Linked DNA regions of Homo sapiens. The protein of the gene in region 4 binds, or shares a complex with, the protein of the main gene of each other region. Each region holds a gene or a part of one and is shown on either strand. Other genes may lie near its edges. The genes, in order: DHX16, CWC22, CRNKL1 and SNIP1.

What was found.
Region 1: SNIP1 (region 4) and DHX16 share a complex: the UniProt entries of both Homo sapiens proteins name them as parts of the minor spliceosome.
Region 2: SNIP1 (region 4) and CWC22 share a complex: the UniProt entries of both Homo sapiens proteins name them as parts of the minor spliceosome.
Region 3: SNIP1 (region 4) and CRNKL1 share a complex: the UniProt entries of both Homo sapiens proteins name them as parts of the minor spliceosome.

Annotation. Positions count from the first base shown.
Region 1 is NC_000006.12:30,662,999-30,670,024, forward strand, and holds part of DHX16 (pre-mRNA-splicing factor ATP-dependent RNA helicase DHX16), read right to left. Parts: intron 4,330-7,026; exon of another isoform or gene 4,187-4,329; intron 3,816-4,186; exon of another isoform or gene 2,897-3,815; intron 2,736-2,896; coding exon 2,481-2,735; intron 2,277-2,480; coding exon 2,073-2,276; intron 1,995-2,072; coding exon 1,803-1,994; intron 24-1,802; coding exon 1-23. UniProt on the Homo sapiens protein: Required for pre-mRNA splicing as a component of the spliceosome. Contributes to pre-mRNA splicing after spliceosome formation and prior to the first transesterification reaction.
Region 2 is NC_000002.12:179,948,275-179,955,300, forward strand, and holds part of CWC22 (pre-mRNA-splicing factor CWC22 homolog), read right to left. Parts: intron 6,761-7,026; coding exon 6,683-6,760; intron 6,084-6,682; coding exon 5,931-6,083; intron 4,325-5,930; coding exon 4,197-4,324; intron 2,653-4,196; coding exon 2,551-2,652; intron 2,459-2,550; coding exon 2,238-2,458; intron 1-2,237. UniProt on the Homo sapiens protein: Required for pre-mRNA splicing as component of the spliceosome. As a component of the minor spliceosome, involved in the splicing of U12-type introns in pre-mRNAs. Promotes exon-junction complex (EJC) assembly.
Region 3 is NC_000020.11:20,035,467-20,042,492, forward strand, and holds part of CRNKL1 (crooked neck-like protein 1), read right to left. Parts: coding exon 6,859-7,026; intron 6,160-6,858; coding exon 6,100-6,159; intron 5,301-6,099; coding exon 5,220-5,300; intron 4,383-5,219; coding exon 4,143-4,382; intron 2,985-4,142; coding exon 2,883-2,984; intron 2,106-2,882; coding exon 1,857-2,105; intron 897-1,856; coding exon 729-896; 3' UTR 1-728. UniProt on the Homo sapiens protein: Involved in pre-mRNA splicing process. As a component of the minor spliceosome, involved in the splicing of U12-type introns in pre-mRNAs.
Region 4 is NC_000001.11:37,544,282-37,551,307, reverse strand, and holds part of SNIP1 (smad nuclear-interacting protein 1), read left to right. Parts: intron 1-5,849; exon of another isoform or gene 5,850-6,745; intron 6,746-7,026. UniProt on the Homo sapiens protein: Required for pre-mRNA splicing as component of the spliceosome. As a component of the minor spliceosome, involved in the splicing of U12-type introns in pre-mRNAs. Down-regulates NF-kappa-B signaling by competing with RELA for CREBBP/EP300 binding.

The DNA.
Region 1 (7,026 bases), on a different chromosome or scaffold from region 4:
TTCATACCCTTGTTTGTATAACCCTGAATGACAAAGAAAAAAGAAGAAGTTTGCCCTTTACTAAATATGCACCCTGGGACCAGGTACATTTCAGAGAAAGAAGTTGTAAAAACCAGGCAGGAGAAAAGGAGGAAAAGACAGATGCTGAAAACCAGAAAAGAAGGGCAAATAGATAGGATGACAGACCTAGGGCCCTCAAAGGGGGTCCTCACCCAGCTCTGGGTAATTAAGTTCATGACTCTGCTAGACTTGAGCTGGAAAAGAACAGATTAGCTGAGACAGAGCCAGCTAAGGTAAAAAAGCAGGAAGGCTGGGCACAGTGGCTCATGCCTGTAATCCTAGTACTTTGGGAGGCTGAGGTGGGAGGATGGCTTGAGCTCAGGAGTTCGAGACCAGCCTGGGCAACATAGTGTGACAAAAAAATTAAAAATTCAAAATTTTGACCAGGCACAGTGGCTCACACCTGCAATTCCAGCACTTTGGGAGGCCGAGGCAGACGGATCTCCTGAGGTTGGGAGTTCGAGACCAGCCTGGCCAAAATGGTGAAACCCCGTCTACTAAAAATACAAAAAATTAGCCGAGCATGGTGGTGCATGCCTGTATTTCCAGCTACTTGGGAGGCTGAGGCAGGAGAGTCGCTTGAACCTGGGAGACAGAGGTTGCAGTAAGCCAAGATCATGCCACCGCACTCCAGCCTGGGCAACAGAGCAAGACTCTGTCTCAAAAAAAAAAAAAAAAAAATTTCAGGCCAGGCACAGTGGCTAACACCTGTAACTCCAGCACTTTGGGAGGCTGAGGTGGGCAGATCACGAGGTCAGGAGATTGAGACCATCCTGGCCAACATGGTGAAACCCCATCTCTACTAAAAATACAAAAATTAGCTGGGTGTGGTGGTACGCACCTGTAGTCCCAGCTACTTAGGAGGCTGAGGCAGGAGAATCACTTGAACCCAGGAGGTGGAGGTTGCAGTGAGTCAAGATCGCGCCACTGCACTCCAGCCTGGTGACAGAGCAAGACTCCACCTCAAAAAAAAACAAAAAATGTTTAATATGGGCATGGTGGTGTGCACCTCCCAGATACTCAGGAGGCTGAGGTGGGATGATCTCTTGAGCCCAGGAGTCCCAGGTTGCAGTGAGTCATGATGGTGCCACATCACTCCAGCTTGGGCATCAGAGCAAGAGCCTGTCTCCAAAATAAGGCAGGGGCTAGGCACAGTGGCTCACACCTGTAATCCCAGCACTTTGGGAGGCTGAGGTGGCTGGATCACTTGAGGTCAGGAGTTCGAGAGCAGCCTGGCCAACATGGTGAAACCCCATCTCTACTAAAAAATTAGCCAGGTGTGGTGGCGCATGCCTGTAATTCCAGCTACTCTGAAGGCTGACGCAGGAGAATTCCTTGAACCCAGGAGTCAGAGGTTGCAGTAAGCCAAGATCGCACCACTGCACTCCAGCCTGGGTGACAGAGCAAGACTCCGTCTCCAAAAAAAAAAAAAAAAAACTAACAAAAAGGCAGGAAAATAGTCCTTTAACTCCTTGTTTTTTGGCCACGTTGGAGCATAGGGAGGTCCACATTTATACACGCCCCACTCCACCTATCCATCTACCCGTCCTTCCAAATGAAATGAATGCAGGAAGTGAGAACAGAAATGTGAAAAGGGTATGGTCTTTACTCTCAAGAATTTCACAATTTAGTGGAAAAGATAGGTAAGTGACTACTAAAAATATAATGTAAAAGGAGCTCTGACAGGAATGAGGACATTGATGCCAGGTGCCCTGGCAAGCTGAAGGGTGAGATGACTGTACCTCCTCAAAGAGATACTGCGGGATCTGGGTGGTCTTCCCTGAGCCTGTCTCGCCTTCAATGATGAGGACTTGGTGATTTGCAATAGCAGCCAGGAGCTCCTCTCGAAATGGGAACACCGGGAGGCTGCGGCGGACGGCCTGGATGGACTCTTTCTGCTGGGCCTGAGTTGAAGTGGGTGGAGCTGACGGCTCCTAAGGAAAGAGAAGGAGGTGTGAGCTAAATAGCTCGCTACGGGTCTTCCTCAGAAAGTCTCCCAGCTCCCCTCTTACCTCATCACCCTGGAGCTGAGTGGCCCGGACAAACTCAATGGTCTCCTCCTCCTCCAGCACCAGTTGATACTTGGGCTCCTGAGAGGCAGCATCTCGGGCCCCAAACTTCAGGGACGCTGCCCCAAGCCGCGCCTCCTCCCAGCGCCGCTGCTCCTCCCCAGGGGCTCCTGATTCCTCCTCCACTAGATCCACAGCTCGGGCTGGCTACAGAGAGAGGGGATATGTGAAGACTCAAAAACAGGATGTCCTCTCTGCCCTCTCCCCTCTTCCCATTACTACCCCCGCCCACTGCCCATTGGGAACGGCAAGGCAAGAAAGGGGATGACCCACGTGTTGCCCAATCCCCTGAAGCCTTCCCCACAACTTGTCTTGGGGACCAAGGCTGAAGCAGACGCCGCTTCACCTCACCTGTCCTCGGGTTTCCTTGGGCATGTGGTAGCGATTGGTGGCCTCCAGCTTCTCCTGCTCCCCAGCTGCCCGGTACTCCCGGGCGAGATCCCGCACTCGCCGCTTATATTTGAGCTCCTGCCGCTCGTGCCGGCTCAGCTCCACGTCCCCAAAAAGGAACTCCTCATCAGCCAGCTCCGCCTCCAGGTCCTCAAGCTTCTCTCGCTCCCGCTTAGCCAGGTACTCTCGGCGAGATTTCTTCCGCAGCTCAGGGACCTGAGTTGGGAAAGGACAGTCGAATCCTCATCTTGCTGGAGGAGCAACCCCTTTCTCTACCAATCCCTACAAGGGAAAAATCCCCTGACAGGCAGGCATGAGAACCTCAGGATGCACCCTCTACCTTCCCTCTGCAATGCACAACCAAAACAATGACATACTCAAATCTGGGCCTCTTTGGATGCTACATGCTGACCCCACATCGTATCTTCCTGCAGCAGAATCCAGCTGGAAAGTCCTCTTAGGCAGCATTATCATCTTTGTTAATATAGATGCACTAGGGAGATGTCTGCGTAGCTTATATTTTACTCTTGCCATTTTATTCAAATTAGTGGAAAGGGGGAAAATAAAAGGCTAATCCAGCATTTAGAAGCACAGGACTCAAACCGAAAACAATTCAGACAAAGATAGAAACCAGTGAGGGGGCCAACAGGAGGCAATCTTCAGCCCCAGTTAGATGTTCTTTGGTCTTAAACGGAATGACTGTAGTTTGAGGAAGGGAGAAAAACTGATTATAAAAAGTTAGGACTACAGCATCAGAGTGTTTCTGTAAGGCAAATGTAATCAGGGATGTTTGGCTTTCTGGTACTAACCTCTCTTCACCATGCTGTGTCTCACTTAGTTTCTACACATTTACCTTTGATACAAACTTTTCAGGACACATTATGGATGACAGCAGAAAACTGGCAATATCTATAAGGCCCTTTCCTGCCAGGAGTCCTCCCACTATGACATCATCCTCTCTGTGATCACAACTTCCTCTACTGCAAGGTCAAAGCCCCTCTGGTGGCTGGGTGGGCGTGGTGACTCACACCTGTAATCCCAGCACTTTGAAAGGCTGAGGTGGGTGGATCACCTAAGGTCAGGAGTTAGAGACCAGCCTGGCCAACATGGTGAAATCCCGTCTCTACTGAAAATACAAAAATTAGCTGGGCATGGTAGTGGGCACCTGTAATCCCAGCTACTCGGGAGGCTGAGGCAGGAGAATCATTTGAACCCGGGAGACGGAGGTTGCAGTGAGCTTAGCTCACGCCATTGCACTCCAGCCTGAGCAACAAGAACAAAACTGCATCTTTAAAAAAAAAGCCCCTCTGCTGTTCTACCCTTAAGGGGCCTGGTTCTATTTAGTTGTTTGGCTTTTCTTGTTTGTTCTGTAAAGACTTAAAATGCAGTTTATGATCATGACCTAATCTGGGTACCACAGTCAAATATTCCTTCCATGGAAGAGCCAGATAGATTTTTTTTTTAATATGGGCAAAAAATCAGAGCCATTTGAGCATTAAAAAGAATAATGATGTGAGATTATAAAATACTGAAAAATAAAAATTCATGAGTCCAATTTGACACACACAAACAAAAAACAAGGGAAAAAAATCTGTCACCAGTGAAATGACTGTTACAGCAAACGCCTTACTCTAAAAATTCGTATTTAAAAGGAAACAAACATTTACCCTTTTTAAGAAGGAACTGTAGCTTGTTCCTAGTTGTTGAGGAAAAGCTCTTCTTTATAGACAAATTCTAGCCAATACACGTAACAGGAATGACAGAATCAAAAAATCACCATTTCGGCCGGGCGCGGTGGCTCACGCCTGTAATCCCAGCACTTTGGGAGGCTGAGGCAAGAGGATCACGAAGTCAGGAGATCGAGACCATCCTGGCTAACATGGTGAGACCCCATCTCTACTAAAAATACAAAAAATTAGCCGGGCGTGGCAGCAGGCGCCTGTAGTTCTAGCTGCTCAGGAGGCTGAGGCAGGAGAATGGCATGAACCCGGAAGGCAGAGCTTGCAGTGAGCCGAGATCGCACCGTTGCACTCCAGCCTGGGCGACAGAGCGAGACTCTGTCTCAAAAAAAAAAAAAAAAAATCACCATTTTGCAATCCCCAATAAAAATAACATGTTCAGGAAAGGATTACCAGTGGCTTCTAAAAGCATTTGATGAAAGGCTATTGGTAGAAAGGATATTAATACTAATATATAGATACACAACTGGATAGTATGTCCCCGTGATATGACATAATATGAAGTGCACATCACCGCCCAAGAAGTGTTCCTGCCACAACTGTTTAATCTGAGTGTCAATAAGCTTTAGACCCAATTCCTGCTTCAAAGAAAGCACAGGGCAGAGAAGTACTTAACACCACAAGATAAGAATCAGGCAAATCCAGAATGTAGGACACTGCAAGGTGAGACAGACAGAGAGAGAAACAAACTTAACATCTAAGACCCAAATGCAATGCATGAACCTTGACTGCATTCTTGTTAGGAAAAAGCAGTCATTAAAGTTATTTTGAGGGTAATGAGGGTATCTTTTATTGTAGAGAGATCTTAGTCGATACATAAGAATTACTGTTCAACTTCCTGACTGTGACAAGAGCATTCTGATTTTAGAGGACAATATCTTTATCCTTAGCAGGTACACACTGATGTACTTAGAGATAAAACGCCATGATGTCTAAGACTCTTTTAAATGGTCTGAAAAGAAAAAACATACCACATTTACAATTACAATGCAAATACTACCCATAGTATTAACCATTTTTCAATCTGAATAGTGTCTATGAGTGTTCTTTGTTCTATTCTTTCAACTTCCCTATGTGCTTAAATATTTTTGTAATCGAAAAAGAAAAATTACAGCTGGGCACAGTGGCTCACGCCTGTAATCTTAACATTTTGGGAGACCGAGGGGGGTGGATCGCCAAAGGTCAGGAGTTTGAGATCAGACTGGCCAACATGGTGAAACCCTATCTCTACTAAACATACAAAAATCAGCCAGGCATGCTAGTGCATGTCTGTAGTCCCAGCTGCTCGGGAGGTTGAGGCAGGAGAATCACTTGAACCCGGGAGGCGGAGGTTGCAGTGAGCCGAGATCATGCCACTGCACTCCAGCCTGGGCGACAGAATGAGATTCTGTCTCAAAAAAAACCCGAAAAATTAAATTCAGGCCAAAACAGTAACACCACTACCACCACAACTGCACTGAGATGTCCCAGAAGCCTAACCACAGTCAATTTCAGGAAGAGATATGAGATAAATTGGTCAGGAGAGACCTGGGAACCAGTAGGCCATTCTTAGAACTCCAAAAGTTGGCCGGGCACGTGGTGACTCACGCCTATAATCCCAGCACTTTGGGAGGCCGAGGCAGGTGGATCACCTGAGGTCAGGAGTTCAAGACCAGCCTGACCAACATGGAGAAACCCCATCTCTACTAAAAATACAAAATTAGCCAGGCGAGGTGGCTCATGCCTGTAATCCCAGCTACTCTGGAGGCTGAGGCAGGAGAATCGCTTGAACTCGGGAGGTGGAAGTTGCAGTGAGCCAAGATCACGCCACTGCACTTCAGCCTGAGCAACAAGTGCAAAACTCTGTTTCAAAAAAATAAATAAATGAATTTTAAAAAGTAAAAACGGCCAGGCGTAGTGGCTCATGCCTATAATCCCAACACTTTGGGAGGCCAAGGCGGGCAGATCACAAGGTCAAGAGATCAAGACCATCCTGGCCAACATGATGAAATCTCCTCTACTAAAAATACAAAAAATTAGCCGAGTGTGGTACTGCAGGCCTGTAGTCCCAGCTACTCAGGAGGCTGAGGCAGGAGAATCGCTTGATTCCTCCACCAGGGAGGCACAGGTTGTAGTGAGCTGAGATCGCACCACCACACTCCAGCCTGGCAACAGAGTGAGACTCCATCTCAAAAATAAATAAATAAAAATAAAAAATAAAACAAAACAAATAAAAAGAAGGCTGGGCATGGTGGCTCACGCCTGTAATTCCAGCTCTCTGGGAGGCCAAAGCAGGTGGATCACAAGGTCAGGGGTTCGAGACCACCCTGGCCAACATGGTGAAACCCCGTCTCTACTAAAGGTACAAAAAATTAGCCAGGCGTGGTGGTGTGCGCCTGTAATCCCAGCTACTCAGGAGGCGGAGGTTGCAGTGAGCCGAGATCGCATCATTGCACTCCAGCCTCGGTGACAGGGCAAGACCCCGTTTCAAAAAAAAGAAAAAAGGTTTAAAAAAAAAAAAAAAAAAAAAAAGGAACTTCAAGAGTCTCAAAATTCTATTGGGGTATTGGGGAATCTAAGTGTGACTTTACTTGACAAGACCAGGCCTTTGGAAAACAGCTTACCCTACCTAGTTTCACACCATAAAAAGTCCAGTTTATGAATTACAAGGGCTCTGTCCCTGTCCAGTGAGAAGACACAGGGAGATCACAAAGCCACATAAGGGGTGCAGGAATTAGGTGGTGGGAAGGTATTTGGAGATGGTGTGCCTAAGCTGAATGGTCAGCACA
Region 2 (7,026 bases), on a different chromosome or scaffold from region 4:
ATATTGATATTTACAGTTGACTAAATAAATAAATGAGGGAAGAGGGACAATACTTTCTTATAGAAGAAATTCAATTACTAGATGTAGAAGAAAACAGACAAATAAAAAATCACCATTAGGTGATTTTTTAACCATCCAAAGATGGATGTTAAAATTAGTGAGTAAAAGCTGGAGGAAAAAGAGATTTGCATAGTATCAAGTTACCTCCCTACAAGACATTTTCACAGAGAAAAATAGTTTCCCTGAAGACATCCAGTGGACACCACCTTACTCAAGTGATCAAGGTTGTCACCCAAAATAAAATTATGAACCTCTTGATAAGATGCACTAAGAACAACACATTGTTTCTAATGTACTCTTGCCAAAAATGTCTAATCTCATTCTAATAAGGAGAAAACATCAGACGAAACTCCATACTGAGGGACAGGTTACAAAATAAGTGACCAGAGGACTTCAAAAGTGTTAAAGCTATTAAGAACAAGGAAAGCCCGAGAGGAACTATCATAGAATGCAGAAAACTGAGAATACAATTAAATGCTAGCAGAATCCTGAAATAAGAAAAACGACATTAGTGGTAAAACTGGTTTTCAAATCACATCTGTAGTCTAGTCAATAATGCTGTTCCAATGCTAATTTCCTAGTTTGATAAATGAACCAGTGTTATGTAAGATGCTACCATTAGGGGAAGTTGGAATGAAGAGTATATGGAAATTCTCTGTACTGTTTTTGCAACTTTCCTAAATCTAAAATTAGCTCAGAATAAAAGGTTACAGTTACAAAGTAAAAAATATAAAGGCATCAGAGAGCTAGTGGAAAAACAAGTACTAGAGGGGCCAAGATGCAGGAGAAAGCAGAAACATTGAGAAGTAAGTGATGTTCTACAGCTACTTTCTCCCTGGGAGCATCTGCTGATTCAGGGATGCTACTGAGGGACAGAGACACCAGAGGTCTGGTAGCCTTGCAGGGCTAGAGAGACAAGAATGGGACTGGTTATTTGCAATACATATATGTACAAAAGATATCATATCTAGAATATGTAAAGAAAACCTACAAATCAACAGAGAAAACAACTTAACTAAAAAAAATTGGTAAAATACTTGAACAGCCACTTGACAACAAAAATCCAAATGGCCAATAATGGATAAAATGGCATTTAACTTCTCTAGTTGAAATGCAAATTAAAACTAAAACCGCCATGCAGTACCATTACACATCCACCAGAATGGCTGAAATGAAAAAGACGGTCAATTTGAAGTATTAATGAGAATGGGAGCTAATGAAACTCTTATACATGGCCGGTGGGAGTGTAAATAGGAATAACCACTTGGAAAACTGACAGTATTCACCAAAGCTAAATATATGCACATCTTATGACACACTGACTCCACCTATAGGTACATACCCAGTAGAAATGTGAATAAATAAATAAGGTCATCAAAAGATATGTACAAGAATATACATGGAAATATCACTTGAAAATCTAAAGTCTGTTGAGCAAAAATGATAAATATATATTGTGGTATATTCATATAGTAGGAAACTACATAGCAATATTACTGAATTAACTATAACTAAATGCAGTAATGCATCTAAATCTCACAAACATAATGGTAAAAAAATAAGCCAGACATAAAAAGGAGTCCATAATACATAATGCTAAAGGTAAAAACAGGCACAATTAATTTATGAAATTACAAATCAGAATAGTAGCTGCCATGAGGATGGAAGGAGTAGTAACTGGGAGAGGAAACACAGAGAACTTCTGGGGTACCGGTATATCTTGATTTGTGTGCTAGCTATGAGGATGTGTTCCCTTTATAAAAATTCATATAGCATCTGAGATCCACAATGAATGTATGATATATCTCAATTACAAACAGCTTTAATATTAAAAGTAAAAAACTAAAATTTATTTAAAATAAAAACATCAGGATAGCTCCTATAAACTAGATTACAAACATTATGAATGGATGGTTCATATCAGTCATCACTCAGATAAGTATCTGCGAATGAAATATTTTCATTTCTATGATGAGGATGTCAAAAGGTAATCCCAGCATTATAAATGTTGTATTACAGACTGCAAGAATGATAGATGGGACCATTTGTATTAATTGTGGCTTTTAAACAACTGATCTCTAAGACAAATAAACAATCAAATTATTTTCTTCCTTCATATATATCAGCAACATATTTATTAGAAAAGAGCAAGCCAAATTACACATAAGCTTCAATACCTGAGGCAGAGCTATGACTACTGATGGATGAAGAGTCGCTCTCTTCACTGGAAGACTCTGAACTGCTATCACTGCTGTCAGAATCAGAGTCGGATGAGTCAGACTCTGAAGAGGAGGACGCTGAAGAGGAAGAGGATGGGGAGGATTTATTTTGCTCAACATCTGGTTTCTGCGCCACAATGACCTTTGGTGTATTTTTGAGATGCTCCCGCAGTTCATCCCTAATTTAAAATATAATCTGTTAGATTCTATTTCAAAGACAATTATGAGATAATTTTATAATCTGAACATAAATTCTGAGAATAATCCTTACGTTAAACCTCCAAGACCTATAGAAGTAAAGAAGTTGATGGCAAACCGAGTGTTTCTTGGATTATCTCGGGGTAATAATCCTTCAAAGAATGGCTGCAGAGTTCTAAAAAGGAAAAAAATAAACAAAAGAGAACACATTGCTTAAAGATAAAAAGGTAAAATCCTTAGTCATTTTTCAGATTTTTCATATATTAAATTACTAAATGAAATACAACCAAGTAACTAGTTGATGTCATTTATTAGGTTAGGCTACGTGCTATCTAAATGAAATGAGTAGGGTCAAGTAATAATGTACCAAACTTGATTTCTATCATTATACAATGTAGGAGGTTTTTAAAAAACTTTTTTTACACACACACATATAGAAAGATAAATATATACACATATATACACGTGTGAATATATATAGTGTATATATATACACACACGTATATATAGTGAATATATGTACAAAAAATTTTAAAAACCTTCTCTGTTGTGTATGTACACGTACACACACATACATAGAACTGTGCCAAGTACTGGGGGAGAGGTGGAAGTCATCAACAAAAGGGAGAAATCAAGGATGAAGACCATATAATTACAATATATATGGAGTGAGACAACCAGAAAGACACTAACAATACAAGGTGGTTTTGGACATTTGGTTTTCAGCACCACACTGAGTAACTACTCAGTGGAGTCAGAAAAAACTTTCTCACAGAAAAAGGTACAATATAAGAAGAATGATTAAGAGTTTCCCAGATAGATCAATAAGACAGGAGAATGCCAGCAGTGGAAACTGAGGTAAGGAAGCATGAAAGAGCCAGATATGTTTAACAAGCTTGGCAGTGTTGGTATGGCTGGAGTGCAGCTTGCTGAAGAGAGAGAAGACGAGCCTGGTCAAGTAGACAGGGACCAAATAAGTAAGTATATGAAGCCAAGAGAAGTGGATGGAATAGTCCAGAGACAGTGTGTGGAACCCAGGAACACTGAAGAGGCAGGCTGAGGAGAAGACTGAGAGAGGAAGTGAGAAGAAAGTATGGAGCCACAGTGAGTAGGTAGTCAACTGCATAAGTGAGGCAGAGAAGTGAAGAGGCATGCAGCCTGAGAAAGACAACTGAATATGGCAGGTGGTCACTGAGAAATCTGAAAGGATGATTTCAGTAGTGTCAATGGAGTAGAAGTCAACCTAAGTGGCAATCTGAACAAACAGGAAATAAGAAAGGTGAGAGGGGATTACATAATAATCCTGAAATAAGGCTCTAGTTCTATGTAATATTTTGAACAATTATTAATAGATGAAATATATACTCAAAACTGTCCACTGATAATATTAGTTATCATTCTAAGGCTTAAAATTAGGGTAAAAAGAAAATAAAATTATAAATATCACTGGAGAATTCAAGTGAGCATACAAAAACAATTCTGTATTTTCTAAGAAAATCTAAAAAGGCATTAATTTGAACTCCACTTAAACTAAAAACCACCACTAAAAGTTGCATGTTGTCCTGTGTGACATAACATGAAATTCACAGTGATTAATGGATGAAGAAAGTCTCAGGGGGCTTAGCTCTTGTTTTTACAGTCTCGGATGGGCTTATGTCTGCTACAATGGGAGAAAACCAGAGGTCAATAAGAATAAAAAGTGCTTAATGGCAAACTTACTCATCCTTTAATCTTGCATTAAGTTTAGGAAGACCCATGTATTCACACAGTTCCTGGAAAAATATTTTGACAAAAATTCTACTGGATGATGTAGTGGTTTCTTCACTCAGTTTTATACATTCAAGAACCTGAAAATTAAAATAAAAAAAGACAAGTATATTTTAATTTATAAAAGACAGGACATAGTGACCAATATTTGTAGGTTTAAGTGTTTCTCAAAATTACTATTTATTCCCATCTTCAACCAGAGTTATCTCTGAATATCTCCCCTTATGCTGACATAAAGTTTAAAACTACTTCTCTATACTAACTTTCAAAATGTTAAGATGCGACAGAAATAGATTTCATTCTCTGTTTTGAGTAATGTGCTTTTTATAGCAGGGAAGATATCCTCTCTTGAGCATATAATGGTAAAGATTACTAGCTCCTAAACCTTACTCATCAAAATGTGGTGTATATGAAGGTTTGGGGCAAAATGCCACTTAGCACATTAGGCTACAATTTTGTTTAGCACACATAACATACGATTTAAAAAAAGACAGAAAGTATAATGGTTTATTCTGAATATTAAGACTGTGGCTTAAAAACTGAAATGCCTAAAGAAATATTTTTAGGGAAAATAAAAATAAAAGTAACCTCTAGTTTTTATGGGTTATGTGTTTGGGGGGCCCATTAGTTGGTTAATTGTTTAAAATTCTCACTTCATTTTCTCAAAGAGGGGAAAAAAGAAGTCAAAAATTATTACAATTAGTCTCCTAGGTTAGATTACGAATGCCTATTAATGTAGCTGGACATACTTGGTACTTAAAGTACTATAAAAATCTAACCAATGTTTTTAAGTTTGAGATATTGCCTCATTCTACCATTAGTAGGATGGCATTCTACAAGATAATCCTGTTCTTTCCTCCTGGATGTAATTTCTCATCCTTCTCTCTTTCTTTCTTTCAAATTCCTTTAGTAATTTTGCTTTTCTTAGAATCTAAGACTTTTTATTTTGTATCATTGCTATGGGCATATCTTACCTCTGGTCTTATACTGTAACCCTCTTGAAAGGAGGGGCCATGTATAATTCACTCTGAATACACAGCACCTCTCTCAATGACTCAGTATATAAGTGGTGGCTAACTAACACTGGTTGAAAAACAGCTGTAAAATCAATGCCAGCTTAATGAACGCCTTTCAAATTTCAATCCAGTGCACATTTCCCTATCAAGAATATATCTTTCTTTGTTCTATGACTATAGGATATCCTCTCTATAGCTTACCCAACTTCAATGTCTGCTAAAAAGAACACATCCTTCTAGAACAATCATTTTTTCTCAAACCCAACAAGAGAACCATGGAGAGTTATTCCCTCAGGAATCAAGGGAGAGTAATTCAGAGACACATTTACCACCAAAATAGTGGCATATGTGGATGTGAGTGTGCATGCACGTGTGTGTACACAGAGAAGATGAAAATCTGCAGTACTTTTCCTGAAGACACTCCTAGCCATCACTATCGAAACACTGGCATGTTTGGACTGTTAATATAATACAAAGATAGTATTTCTTGTATATTATTTACCTAGCTTTCTGATTCCTTATAACATGATGATAATCTCAAAGACAGCAGTTCTACACATTTCATTTTAAAGCACATTTCATAATAGGATAAATATGGCTAGCTTATACGAAAATCTATTTGAGAACAGGGAATTAGGAAGGAAGTATAAATATTGACCCATGTACTTACACTCCATGGAAGTGAATCAGTGTATAAAAGGTGAGCAAACATCTTAGCAACATTTCGCAACTTGTTTGTTTCCAAGCGATGGATGGTATCATACTGTTCTTTGAATATACCTTCAAAGGATTCCATGTACTCTTTCTTTAGCATGCAAAATCGCTAATAAATAAAAAATCAGTACCATTAAAAATTGAATGTTAATACAATTATGAGCATATTAAATCCTAAATTTACTGAATCAAAACTTTATTAATATGCTTTATATTTTCAAAGAGCATATATCACTAAATCCTTTTGTGCCATATGATGCTCAAAAAAGAAGTTAATATATATGGTTTCTAATTACCTGAGATTTACATGTTAAAACAAAATCATACATGTAGGTGATCACATGAGGGTAGAGCTTAAAGAAATATTTTAGATCATGCTTTAATTGTGCTGCCTGAACATGTACTTGACTTTAGACACTGCTTTGAGATTTTGAAAAGACAGCATTTACTTGTCGTCTATTGGGAAATCATTACAAATCATGGAAAATTCCAAAAAGCTCTGGAAAAGTGATATGCAAAGTTAAAGCACTGCAAAAATGAAGTAGAAAAAGAGGAAGGTGAAGAGAGTGGGAAACCTGAGGAAGGAGAGAATAATTTGCTTTTAGCAAAAGTGGTAATATGTTTTTAAATGAGACCAGACCATAAAGCAGAAATCATTAATTTACAATATTCGTTTTAAGAATTCCCTCAGTAGAGGCTGGAACTCACCCCAGCTAATAAGCCAAAAAATTTTTCGTATGTCCTCTGTTGGGCACAGCAATCAAGTATCATGTTGCAGAGTTCTTTCTATTTGGGAAAAAAAATACATTAATGATTCAAAACACAAAGAGACTAAATATTGTATAATTTACCAGTATGATAGTGACTGCCTGCATTTTTAAATAAGGGTTTAAAACAGTTCAAAAATTTTGTAAATAAAATAAAAACCTCAATCTATGTTAAACTCATCATTTTTTACAGGCTTGGGTCTGGCTGACAGCTTCCACAGTCATTTATGCTAATTACATTAATTATAAAATTCTAAATTCATGATAAGTATGAACCACATCAAG
Region 3 (7,026 bases), on a different chromosome or scaffold from region 4:
CTAACTGAAATTATTAGACTAAATTCTTAGTAAACAATGTTTTCTGAACCTTGTTCAGAAATATAATCACTGCAAATTATTTTCCAAGTGTTGTTCTAAAAAACAATATAACTGGACACTAGTAAGAAAGTAAGGTAAATTATTAATCCACTCGCATTCAATTCTACAAGGAATGAAACCATTTTTAAAAGTGGCTTAGAACAAACAATTTACTGAGCACTTACTATGCACCCACCAGGTATATTCCTTTTATAATGTAATCTTCAAAATGAGCTGTCAAACTATTGGCCCATTTTGTGAATGAGGAAAATGAAAATTAAGTTATATAATCATGAGTGGCAGAGCTGGGAAATGAACTCAAGTCTGTGACTCTGAAGACATGAAAAAGTTACACATTTCAGATGAATGCATAAACTATCTTTATGGGTATGACATGAAAAGTAACTGTAGAATGTTACCTTAATTACATTTCCTAATGCATGATGTGGACAGACATTAGAAAAGTTTGGACTCAGTTGGAAAAACAAATCCAGCAGTTAAAAAAGTCCTTTACTTGCAATCCCTACCCCTAGCTAACCCAAGAGCATTTAAAAAATAACTTAAAAAGTAGCCATCAAAGATACCAATCAATTTCTTACTGGTGAAATATATAAGAACTTCCAGGAGTCACAAGAGTTCCAAACAATTAATTTATAAAAATAACAAAACATTTGTCTATGAAAAAAAGATCAGGATTCACTCTCATCGACGTCCTCATCTGGATGGTGCTCAGCATCCTCCTTTTCCTGCTGCTGTTTCTTCCACAGTTTGGCCATGGCCAGGAGTTTGAGGTTAGGTTGGTTGGCAGCATCTTCTGGAAAGATGTAATCAAAGTATTCTTCCCAGCCTGCATCAGACTACAGAAATAAAAAATGAAAAGATAAGCAAACGTGGGTGATATACTCACATATCAGAGTGAAGAATTTTTACTGGAAATCCGGATGATTACCTCCATTTTACAAAATAACATCAAAGTCTACTACAGAAAGAACAAGGGCTGGGTCTGAAAGACTGGGAGTGAGTAAGCAGCAACTGTAGCTCAGTGAGAACTAAACTGGTAGAAAAACATTCTAAAAATCTAAGCACAGCTCCTCTATAGCCAACCAAGATGTTCAGTGTCTCCAACTACATTGTGCAGTCTTACACTTAAGAAAACGTTTAACGATCTTTACATAATATTCACCCAGTAGCAAAAGCCATACATCTGTGCATTATTATTCCAACTCCCTACCTTCCCATCCTCACCTCCTATCAGTCACTGATTTCACTTCCCAAATATTGTTCTAACAGGCCCTGTGGCCCTGTTCTAGTTCCAGCTTCCATGTCTTGCTCAGCTTATAAAAACTGCTTCCTGATGGGTCTTCTTTCTCCAATCTAAGCCCCTTGAGTCTGCCAGGATGAGAGGCTAGCAATCTGGTCACGTCATTTTATGCAAAACAGCCTTCACTGACTCCCACCAAACTCCTTCTTACCGCCTACAAGCCTTCTCTGGATAGGCTCCTATCTGAAAGTTCAGTTCCATCTTCCTCCACACTTACTTCCTATTAAATGCTCTAAAAATATCACACTTCATGAAGTTCCCAGACTCAACCATCACCAAAACACCTTTGCCAACCCCTTCCCGTTCTCCACCTCTGACTGGACCATATGTTCTACCCCGTGTTTCCATAACAGCCAGATTGCAACCATCTCCTACTCCAGGTGGTCTGCTTCCATTCTAAGATTGTACATATGCCACTTAAAAGTCCACATTTCGACGTCAGAAGTGTTTCTACTCATGTGACGTGAGATGAACAGTCCCAGGGCAGAGTTCTTACCCCATCATCAGTCTGGACCTTTCTTCTCTTCTTGACTTTCTCTGGCATGAGTTTGTCTACTCTCTCCTTATCTGAAGCTGTTCCAAATTCTTCTTCAAAACTTCGCCAAGATTCCAGCAGCATAAGTCTCTCTTCCTTTTCTTCACAGTTTCGCATGGTTTTGTTAGCTTCTTCATAAATTTGTCTGCATTTAGTCAAACTTCCTTCTTTTCCTGAAGACAACTCAAACTGAGCAAAGCTGATCCATACCTTTAAAAAAAGTTATTATTGAACCAAATTAACCATATCACTCAGAAGATAATAATGTAGTAATAATAAAGCGAATTCCCAGTTAATGACATCGGAAAGTAATGTGTGCATCACTAATGTTTCACAGATGAAAACAATGAATATATGCTTCAATATAAACACTGAAAATATTTGATTCTACATTCTACAATTAAATGTCTGACATAGTCTTAAACTCTTGAAAAGAGTTTAACTTGGCTGGGTGCAGTGGCTCACGCCTGTAATCCCAGCACTTCGGGAGGCTGAGGTGGGCAGATCACGAGGTCAAGAGATCGAGACCATCCTGGCCAACAGGTGAAACCCTGTCTCTATTAAAAATAGAAAAATTAGCCTGGGCATTATGGTGCGCGTCTCTAGTCCCAGCTACTCTGGAGGCTGAGGCAGGAGAATTGCTTGAACCTGGGAGGCGGAGGTTGCAGTGAGCCGAGATAACGCCACTGCACTCCAGCCTAGAGACACAGCAAGACTCCGTCTCAAAAAAAAAAAAAATAGTTTAACTTTTTTTCAATCTTGTGATACCCAAGCTACTCACATGCAGCATAAACAATGACCTGGTATAAACTTAACATTCCAAACATTCCAAAGTCCTCTGAGACTCACGTTTCTCTTGAAAAGCAAGGAAGTCATTAAAAAAAAAAAAAAAACAAAAACCCAAACACTTAAAATACAGAAATATATCATTTTCTTCTGGACTGCTGATTCAAGCAAAATGAAAGATCATCTACAAAGCAAGGATACCTTGACATGCTGCGTCCGTTGAAGCAACCGCCGGTAAAGGTTTCGTGTTCTTTCTGTTTCTTCCTGCTCAATTTCAAAATCAATATATGATTTCCAAAGCACCTAAGGAAGAAAAGTAAATGGGTCAGTCTTGACATTTACAAAGCAGCATGCCCCCATCCAAAGCACAGCTGAAGTATCACTCTAACCTACATCTAGGAACATAGGATTTTTACTGAACAACTAAAGAACACATGTGGATAAGATAAATAACATTGGTATCTATAAGCTGGCCAAAACTTGGCTAGAATTCCAGATTACAGAAAAAGGGCCTTGGATTCAGTCTTAGAGATTCTCTTTGGAAGTTTTTCAAATGCTTGACTTATCAAGAGCTGAGAAACTTGCCAAGCATCTCCCAGGTACTCCATATTCTAGCCACACGCAATTGAGCGTCCAGAGAGAAAACAGGCCCAGGTTAGCCAGTATGCATGTTCTTACCTCTACTGTACATTCCTTGTTATTATGAGAGTTCAGTGCAACAAGCATTCACTGAACAGGTGCGCACTGGCTCGGTGCAGCCTGGCAGGGAATAAGGATGAATAAACCGTGGCATGGACACCTGAAAGCTGGCAGTCTGGTGGAGGAGCCGAGGACAACTGATGAACTCAGTGATACCCAAAGCCCTGCCTTAATTAATGCAATCAGGGGGCCAAACCATTAAATGCAGGGTCATGTTAGTGCATGAGATTAACAAAACGGCTGGGTGAGTTCTACGACTCATGTGAGATTCAAATCTTTCCTAGCTGTGGTTTGGTGCTACCTTGTGGGTCAAGCTTAACTACTGAAGGCAGGCGAGGACTTTCAGGACAGTGACAACAGAAGTTGCAAGGACATCCTGGTTTAGAGAATACAGGGATGTGCAGTTCCTACCTCCATCCCCCTCGTTCTCCGGGTGGGCCAGCCTGCTGGCTTCTTCCTTGCCTGGCCTCTTCCCCAGCCCCTTTAGGCTTTCCTGCTGCAGAAGGGGCGTCACCCACCCCCATGATATCCCAGTTCATCCTGGGCATCATCCTGGATGTCTACTGCTCTGGTATCTAATGAGAGGGCTACTTCCCCTGTCCCCCACAGCCACCTTTCCACGTACAAGCCTAATCTGAGTAGAAGAGACTAAGTTAGTTAGATCATCGTTATACTCTAAAATACACCCACATTTAGATGGTCATCTAAAGTAAGACTAAACACGTATCTCAAACAAAATTATATTTGACTTGAGATGCTCACCTCTGGCATGTCTAAACGTGGCTGACTGATGGCTAATTCATAGATTGCCCGTGCTCTGTCAATATCACCAAGGATTGTCTCTAATTCAGCGAATTTAATCCATGAGGTACAATTTTCAGGTCCAAATTCCAGGAACTTTTCATAAAGCTTCCGGCATCTGTCAAATTCTCGAAGCTGTAGCTCCAATTCTATGTAAACTTTAAATAATTTGTTCTTTGGACATTTGCCTATGGAAGTTCCCTGGAAAATAAAATAACCAGACCACTGTGATACTGTAGTGGATTTAATCTGTGCAGTTATTGCACTGCCCTAGAGGCTGTTCTCTGCTGAGGAAGAATCTTGCAAAGTCAACATGGCCTACCATTCTTTCCCTCTGTGGTATCACAATGTTTACTGGTTCTTGACAAAAGGCTGAAGGAAACTCCTCTAATTCACTCAGCAAGAGGCAGTGTTCCAGAATTGTTTGGGCAACTAAATAAAATAAGATTTGAAAGTTTCTCAGGATCTCCTAGGGAATAGGGATGTCAAATGCATAAAACCTCCTATAAATAAAAAGGACAAGGCATGGTGGCTCATGCCTGTAATCCCAGCATTCTGAGAGGCCAACATGGGAGGATCATTTCCGCCCAGGAGGCAGAGGTTGCAGTGAGCCAAGATCGCGCTACTGCATTCCAGCTTGGGGAACAGAGCGAGACCCTGTCTCAAAAAAAAACCAAACAAACAAAAAAAAAAAAAAGAAAAAAAAAGTGGAACAATTAAAAGTGCATTTAACACACCAAAAAGTTTGCACAGGATCAGATTACTAATTCCAGTCTGTGGAAAGATTTAGTAACTGGTAGCTATAGAAGTTTCCAATATTGAAACAGAATGTTAATTTGCCCCAGGTAATAAGAATAATTTACGCATTATTAGTCAGTGTTTTTACAGAGGACGCATGTTTTCTAACATGTCCCAGGCTATAAAGGTATAATACTTCTGTCACTCTTTAAAGTAGGAACTGTACAACTTCCAAGCACCAAGATTTTAATTTCTTTCTCATAGAACTTGATGAGACATCTTGATCCTTTCTTTACTTACCAATGCTCTTCTGGCTAATGACAGATTCTTCTGTCGTATTTCAAACTGTGCATACAGTATCCACATTTTGGCAAATGTGAACTAGAAAACAAAAGCACAAAAATATCTAGCTTAAAAGCCTCATCCAAATTAAATTGAATTAAAATTAATTTAAATTAACCAAAGCCATTGGTAATTCGATTTCTCTAAAACTTCAGAGTAAGAGGAATGTACTCTGCTTATTTACAAGCAAAGACCACATTCATTTCACAAAAGTTAGAAACCCACATACCATGATCCAGATACTATATTGTACTGCATGGCATGGTAACCTCTCCTGAGAACCATGATCCAGATACTGTACTGTACTGTATGGCACGGTAGCCTCTGCTCAGAACAGACTTTGTTTTGTAGGCATGCTTGTATATGGGCAGAATGTCCTACCTCTATTCTGAAAAGTAACTCAGTCAACACTTCTACAGAAGGAAACACGTTTTGTTTCTCGTGCTGGGAAACAAGGCGGAGGTAACATCTCAACCATCTACACAAGGGGCACATTCATCTGTGCATGCACACACTCACTGTTACCAACAAACCCGCCTGTGTGTCCCCCGCACACGTTGTGTGCTCTCTGCATGGATGTCTTTCTCCTTCCACTCAGACTATTCACATTACCTAGCCTTCTCTGAATTTATATTATTTGTTTGTCAATGCAGGTTGTCCTCCAACCTAGTCTGTGAGCTGTTTTCAGAGGCAAGGAGCATATCTCAGTCTTATTTATGTTGTCCATGGTGGGACAGGGAAGCATTTTATCAATCAATATTATTTCACTGAATTACTTCACAAGTAACAGAAGAGGATTCTGACCTGTTTGAAATGGAACACTTTAGAGCAAACATACCTTTTTGTGAGGAATTAGTTCCAAAGAGGCTTGATACACCTGTCTTGTCCTCTCAGGATCCTGTATTAGGATAAGAAATTTTCACAAAATATTGAAGTCTGCTGCTAACACTCATTTTACTAGTTACTAATTTTACTGATATTGGTAAAAATGTACACCCCCAAAACAGCATGTTTCACAAGTTGTTACTTGCAAACCCTGATTTATGATCTAAAGTATGAACGGCCATGAAACTTCAGTTTAAGAATCACCAACAAGATAGCCACCAAACTTCTAAGCCCTTCTTTGTAGAAAGCCGTTTTGCCTGATGGCAGAAAGAAACAAAGATGTTTCATAGTCTCAGATCAAACCCAGAAGGTTAATACAAATGATTTCTGAAAATGCCACTTGATTTTTGCTAAAAGCAAAAATGCATAATCTAGCCAGAATTACTCCTATTAATGAGCAAATCCAGGAAACTATATTTCACTAAATTAAGGGCTGGTTCACTGTTCTCTTTCAAGCTCCAAGTGATATCTTGTTGTGCCTCAAGTAAAAATCAAACCAAAGTTAAAAAAGCCCCTCACGTGTGGCCACAACAAGCACAGAGGGTTTAAAATGTTGCAGAGCGAATATATAACTGTATGGATGAACAGAAGCCTATAAAAATTTAAAACTAAATTTCCTTCTTTCAAGAATTACAAACATCCACAATAGGTGAGCTGTGAATACAGAAGACAGGAAACCATTATCAGCTGACACATAATTCTGTTTTTTCACCTTTGCCTCCAATTCTTCATAGAGTGCATAGTTGATCCAAAGATAAATGTAGCGCTTCCAGTGCCTCTTCTCCTGAATGGGTGGGACATTGGCAATGGCCCTTTCATAGACTTCTCTCACGGCTTCAGCTTCTGCGTCACTTTCTACCAAGCGCAAGTAATCAAACCA
Region 4 (7,026 bases):
GTGATTTTAATTTGCGTTTTCCTTTTTTTTTTTTTTTTGAGACAGAGTCTGGCTCTGTCACCCAGGCTGGAGTGCAGTGGCACGATCTCGGCTCACTGCGACCTCCGCCTTCTGAGTTCAAACGATTCTCCTGCCTCAGCTTCCCGTAATTTGCATTTTCCTAATGGCTTATGATATTGGACATCTTTTCTTTGTGTGTCAGTGTGTGTGTGTGTGTGTGTGTGTGTGTGTGTCACCCAGGCTGGAGTGCAATGGCGTGATCTTGGCTCACTGCAATCTCCCCTTCCCAGGTTCAAGTGATTCTCCTGCCTCAGCCTCCTGAGTAGCTGGGATTACAGATGCCCACCACCACGCCCAGCTAATTTTTTGTATTTTTAGTACAGAAAGGGTTTCACTATGTTGGCCAGGCTGGTCTCAAACTTCTGACCTCGTGATCTGCCTGCCTCGGCCTCCCGAAGTGCTGGGATTACAAGCGTGAGCCACTGCACCTGGCCTTGGACGTCTTTTCATGTGCTTATTTGCCATCTATATGTATCTTCTCAGGTGCAATGTCTCATGTCTTTTGCCTGTTTATTTTTTATTTTTTATTTTTTATTTTTTGAGACGGAGTTTCACTCTTGTTGCCCAGGCTGGAGTGTAATGGCGCGATCTCAGCTCATTGCAACCTCAGCCTCCCAGGTTCAAGGGATTCTCCTGCCTCAGCCTCCCAAGTAGCTGAGATTACAGGCTCGTGCCACCATGCCCAGCTAATTTTTGTATTTTTAGTAGAGATGGGGTTTCGTCATTTTGACCAGGCTGGTCCTGAACTCCTGACCTCTGGTGATTCACCTGCCTCAGCCTCCCAAAGTGCTGGGATTACAGCAAAGTGAGCCACCATGCCCAGCTATCTTTTGCCTGTTTTCTAATACTATTATTTGCTTTTTTACTGTTTAGTGTTTAAGAATTCTTTTTATATTGTGGATACTAGCCCTTTGGGGATAAATGGTTTACAAATATTTTTTCCCAGTCTGTAGCTGTCTTCATTTTCTTAACAGGGTTTATCTCAGAGCAAAAGTTTTTAATTTCAATGAAGTCCAGCTTATCTGTTTTTCCTTTTATGGATTGTGCTTTTGATGTCATGGCTAAGAACTTTTTGCCTAGCCCTAGATCTCTGAAATTTTCTCCTAAATTTTTTTTCTTAAAAGTCCATGATCTGCTTTCAGTTTCTTTTCAGGGTTTCAGGGTTTTTGTTTTGTTTTGTTTTGTTTTGTTTTGTTTTTGTTTTTTTTGCCTATGAATGTCCACTTGCATCAACACCATTTGTTGAAAAGACCATCTTTCCTCCAATGAATTACTTTTGCTCTTTTGTCAAAAATCAGTTGGGCATATTTGTGTGGGTCTATTTCTGGAATCTCTGTTCTGTTTCATTTGTCAGTGTCTGTCACTCTGCCAATACCACACAGTCTTGATTACTATAGCTATATAATAAGTCTTGAAATTGTATGGACTGATTTTTCCCATTGTAGTCTTCTTTATAAAAATTGCTTTAGCTATTCAGCTTCTTTTTTCATCCATGTAAGTTTTAGAACAATCTTGCCTCTATTTTTAAAAAGTCTGGGCCGGTCACAGCGACTCATGCCTGTAATCCCAACACTTTGGGAGGCTGAGGTGGGCAGATCACTTGAGCTCAGGAGCTCCAGACCAGCCTGGGCAACATGGTGAAACCCATCTGTACAAAAAATACAAAAATTAGTTGGGCGTGGTGGCATGCCTGTGGTCCCAGCTACTCAGGAGGCTGAGTAGCTCCTGAGTGGGAGGATTACTTGAGCCTAGGAGGTTGAGGCTGCGGTGAACAGTGATCATACCACTGCACTCCAGCCTGGGCGACAGAGTGAGATCTGAAAGAAAAGTCTTGCTAGGATTTTGATAGGATTTGTGTTAAACTGGCGTTTGGGGGCAATAATTGACTTTTTACTATGTTAAATCTTCTAATCCATGAACATTGTGTATCTCCCCTTTTATTTAGATCATCTTTGATATCTTTTATCAGTGGTTGTAGTTTTCAGCTTATAAATCCTATACATATTTCTTTGTGGAATGATTATAAAGGGTATTTTAAATGAGTGTCCAAATGTTCATTGTTACTATATAGAAATATAATTCATTTTTGTGTGTTTATCTTCATCCTATATCCTTGCTGAACTAATGTATTCTAGTTTTTTTTTTTTTTTAAGATTACTTGGGATTTTCTACGTAGACAATCATATCTACAAATAGGGACAGTTTTATTTCTTCCTTTACAATCTGAATGCATTTTATTTCCTTTTGTTGTTTGCATTAGTCCGTTTTCATGCTGTTGATAAAGACATACCCGAGACCCGGCGATTTACAAAAGAAAGAGGTTTAATGGACTTACAGTTCCACATGGCTGGAGAGGCCTCACAATCATGGTGGGAAGCAAGGAGGAGCAAATCACACGGATGGCGTCAGGCAAGGAGAGATAAAAGAGTAATGAGAGCAGACACTCTTGCCTTATTCTCAATTTTGAGGGATGAGAATTCAGTCGTCTTTTTTTTTTTTTTTTCTTTTTTTTTTGAGACGGAGTCTCGTTCTGTTGCCCAGGCTGGAGTGGCGCAATCTCTGCTCACTGCAGCCTCCGCCTCCTGGGTTCAAGGGATTCTCCTGCCTCAGCCTCCCAAGTAACTGGGATTAGAGTCTGGGCCGATCACAGTGGCTCATGCCTGTAATCCCAGCACTTTGGGAGGCCGAGGCGGGTGGATCACCTGAGGTCAGGAGACCAGCCTGGCCAACATGGTGAAACTTCGTCTCTACTAAAAATACAAAAATTAGCTGGGTGTGGTGGTGGGCGCGTGTAATCCCAGCTACTTGGGAGGCTGAGGCAGGAGAATCACTTGAACCTGGGAGGCGGGGATTACAGTGAGCCAAGATCGCACCACTGCACTCCAGCCTGGGTGACAGAGCAAGACTGTTTTAAAAAAAAAAGCAAATTTTAAAAGACAAATAACAGTATAACAACTATTTATATAGCATTTACGTTGTATTAGGTATTATAAATAACCTAGTGATGATTTAAAGTATACAGAAGGATATTCACAGATTTTTATATAAGGAACTTGAGCATCCTAAGATATCTTTTTTTTTTTTTTTTTTTTTTTGATATGGAGTCTCGCTGCGTTGCCCAGGCTGGAGTGCAGTGGTGCGATCTCGGCTTACTGCAAGCTCCGCCTCCCGGGGTTCACGCCATTCTCCTGCCTCAGCCTCCTGAGTAGCTGGGACTACAGGCGCCCGCCACCATGCCTGGCTAATTTTTTTGTATTTTTTTTTTAGTAGAGACAGGGTTTCACTATGTTAGCCAGGATGGTCTCCATCTCCTGACCTCGTAATCCACCTGCCTTGGCCTCCCAAAGTGCTGGGATTACAGGCATGAGTCACTGCACCTGGCCCTGAGATAATCTTTTTTATCCACTGGGGATCCTGGAACCAATCTCCTGAGGATACCAAATGATTACTTTATTCTTTTCTCAACCTCTGAACCACCATTTTGTGTTTTTTTTTGGTTGTTGTTGTTGTTTGTTTGGTGAAGTGTTGCTCTGTTGCCCAGGCTAGAGTGCAGTAGTGTGATCTTGGCTCACTGCAATCTTTGCCTCCTGGGTTCAAGCGATTCTCGTGCCTCAACCTCCCCAGTAGCTAGGATTACAGGCACGTGCCACCATGCCCGGCTAATTTTTGTATTTTTAGTAGAGACGGGGTTTCACCATGTTGGCCAGGCTGGTCTCAAACTCCTGACCTCAAGTGATCCACCTGCCTCAGCCTCCCAAAGTGCTGGGATTACAGATATGAACCACCGTACCCAACTGAACCACCATTTTCGAAACAAATGTATTGATTACATGCTCATTGTAATAATACAGAGGTATGTAAAATATAAAATGAGAGTATGGTTTACTTCTCTCGTCCCCAAAATTGCACCACCTCCTCAACCAAAAAACCTCCACCTCACTTGCCAGAGGTAATCACTATGATATAGACTCTCTGTCCATCATCACATGGCCTTCTCCCATGAATCTCTCTATCTCTTCTCTTCCAAGGTCACCAGTCACGTGGGATTAATGACCTATATTACTTCAGTATGACCTTAATTTATTACATCTGCAGTGACCCTCTTTCTAAATAACGGAGAGATAAACATTTGAGACTCACCTGCATATAGGTGTATGTAAAGTATTAGGATTAGATGAAAATTACTAAGGAAATGACTGTAGATAGAAGAACAACCAACAAAGGACTGAATCCAGGGGCGATCCAGTGTGAAGAAATTGCAGTGACATCAGCAAAGAAGACTGGAAAGAAAGAGAAGCAAGAGAATCTGGTAACTTGAAGCCATTAGAAGGAAGTGTGTTGAGGATAGAGTGATTAACTCTGTTAGATGCTGCTGATAGTTAAGTGAAATGAAGACTGAGAATTGGCCACTGGATTTAGCAACATGGAGGTCACTGGTGATCTTGACCAGCAATTTTAGTGGAGTAATAAGGGTGAGACCTGATTGGAGGGGTTCAAGGGAAGACAGAGGAGAGGAATTGGGAACTGAATTTTTAAAAACAATACTTTTTCTTTCTTTCTTTCTCTTTTTTTTTGAAACAGAGTCTCACTCCGTCACCCAGGCTGGAGTGCAGTGGTGCAATCTTGGCTCACTGCAACCTCCACTTCTGGCGTTCAAGTGATTCTTCTGCCCCAGCCTCCCAAGTAGCTGGGACTGTAGGCACGTGCCACCACATCCAGCTAATTTTTGTATTTTTAGTAGAGATGGGATTTCACCATGTTGGCCAGGCTGGTCTTGAATCCCTGACCTCAAGTGATCCACCCACCTCAGCCTCCCAAAGTGCTAGAATTACAGACATAAGCCACCACACCCGGCCGTTATGGCTTATTATAATGACTCTTAATAAGGGATAAAGGACATGATGAGATTAGTCCTGGTGAACTCAAGGCAGATAGCAGTGGCAAGCTTGTAAATGTTTTGGAGTAGGAAGGGTGGTTGTCTGAGGCTCTCTCTTGATGCATGTCTGTGCTAGGCTAGGAAGTCTAGAAAAACTGAGTCCCACTCTAAGCAAGCAGCCCCTCACTTGAGCCCTGTGTATGGCAGGGAGCGGGGGGGGGGGGGGTCTTAGTCCCAGTGCTTCCACTTTTAGGGTATTGCGAATAATGCTGCAATGAACATGGATGCTCAAGTATCTATTTGAGACCCTGCTTTCATTTGTTTGGGATATCCAGAAATGGGATTGCTGGATCATATGGCGATTCTATTTTTAAATTTTTTATGGAACCACTGTACTGTTTTCCGCACTAACTATACCATTTTACATTCCCACCAGCAGTGTACAAGGGTTCTGATTTTTCCACATCTTTGCCAATACTTGTTATTTTCAGTTTTTTGATAGTAGCCATCCTAATGGGTGTGGAGTCACCTAAATTTTTAGTTTTTAATTTTATTTTTATTATTATTTTTAGAGAGGGCGGCGGGTGGGTCTCACTATGTTACCCAGGCTGGTCTCGAACTCCTGGACGCAAGTGATCCACCCGCCTCGGCCTTCCAAAGTGCTGGGATTACAGGTGGGAGCCACTGCGTCCTGCCTGCCTAATCATTTTTATTATTATTATGTATTTTTTAAATTAGGGGCCATGCTAATTTTTGTGTCATTCTAATTTTCTCCCTAATCATTTTGAAAGTCTCTTACTGCTCTCTGCTTTAAAATTTTTAACCTTAATTATCTGTAAACATTTTTGTACCTTACCTAGTCCATAACAAGAAGTTTTTTCTTTGTTTTTTTTTTTTTTTTGGTGGGGGCGGGGGGTACCAAATTTCTTTATTTGAAGGAATGGTACAAATCAGCTTAAGTGGATGTTTTGGTACAACTTATAGAAAAGGTAAAGGAGACCCCAACATGCATGCACTGCCTTGGTGACCAGGGAAGTCACCCCATGGCTATGGGGAAATTAGCCTAAGGCTTAGCTTTCATTATCACTGTCTCCCCGGGGTGTGCTTGTCAGAGAAATATTCTGCCAAGCCAGATTCGGGTGCCCTCATCTTGCGCAAGTTGGTCACATGGTCACCCAATTCTTGATGGATTTCCCCTGCTCATTCAGGTAATGTGTTTCAGTGAAGTCACACAAATGGGGGTAATTTTGTCGGTGGCCAGTTTGTGCAGTTCCAGTAGTGACTGATTCCCAAGTTTTTCCAAATGTAATGCATGCTCCATCGCATTCAGCCTGCTCTCCCAGTCATCATGGTCTGGTTTCTTGAAGTCCCGAAGGAAGAAGATTCAGCCACCTCATTGGTTCTGCAGCTTCATCAGTTTCTTGGCATGTTCCCTCTCCTCATGAGATTGGTGAAGAAAGTATTTGGCAAAGTTCTTCAAAGCCACATCATTGTGGTCAAAGTAGTAAGACATGGACAGGTAGATGTAGGAGGCATAGAGCTCCACGTTGATCTGGCGGTTGATGGCGGTAGTTCTGGCGCACCTGCGAGGGGGACGCGCAGTCGTCATGGTGGTGGCCACGGTGGCTGTGCGGCGGTGGCTGCACGGCGCTGGAGTGGCGGCGGGGGCCTTGGGACAGTCAGAGGGCCCAGTGAAGAGGTAACAGAGGGCTAGCTATGGGCGGCCAGCCGGAGTGGGGTACGAGTGCCTGGTTCCGTCCAAGCACTGTTGAACCAGGAAACTCCAGGGACTTTCCGCAAAGAACGTCTCATTTTTTTCTTTTTGAAACAAGAATACACAACAACATTTTTGTACATGAATGAAGTCCTTGGGGATCTACATCTATAAGACTTGTTTCTTTCTTTCTTTTTTTTTTTTTTTTTTTGAGACAGAGTCTCATTCTGTCCACCCAGGCTGGAGTGCAGTGGCGTGATCTCGGCTCACTGCAACCTCCGCCCTCCGAGTTCAAGTGATTCTCCTGCCTCAGCCTCCCAAGTAGCTGGGATTACAGGCGCCTGCCACCGCGCCCTTCTAATTTTTTGTATTTTTA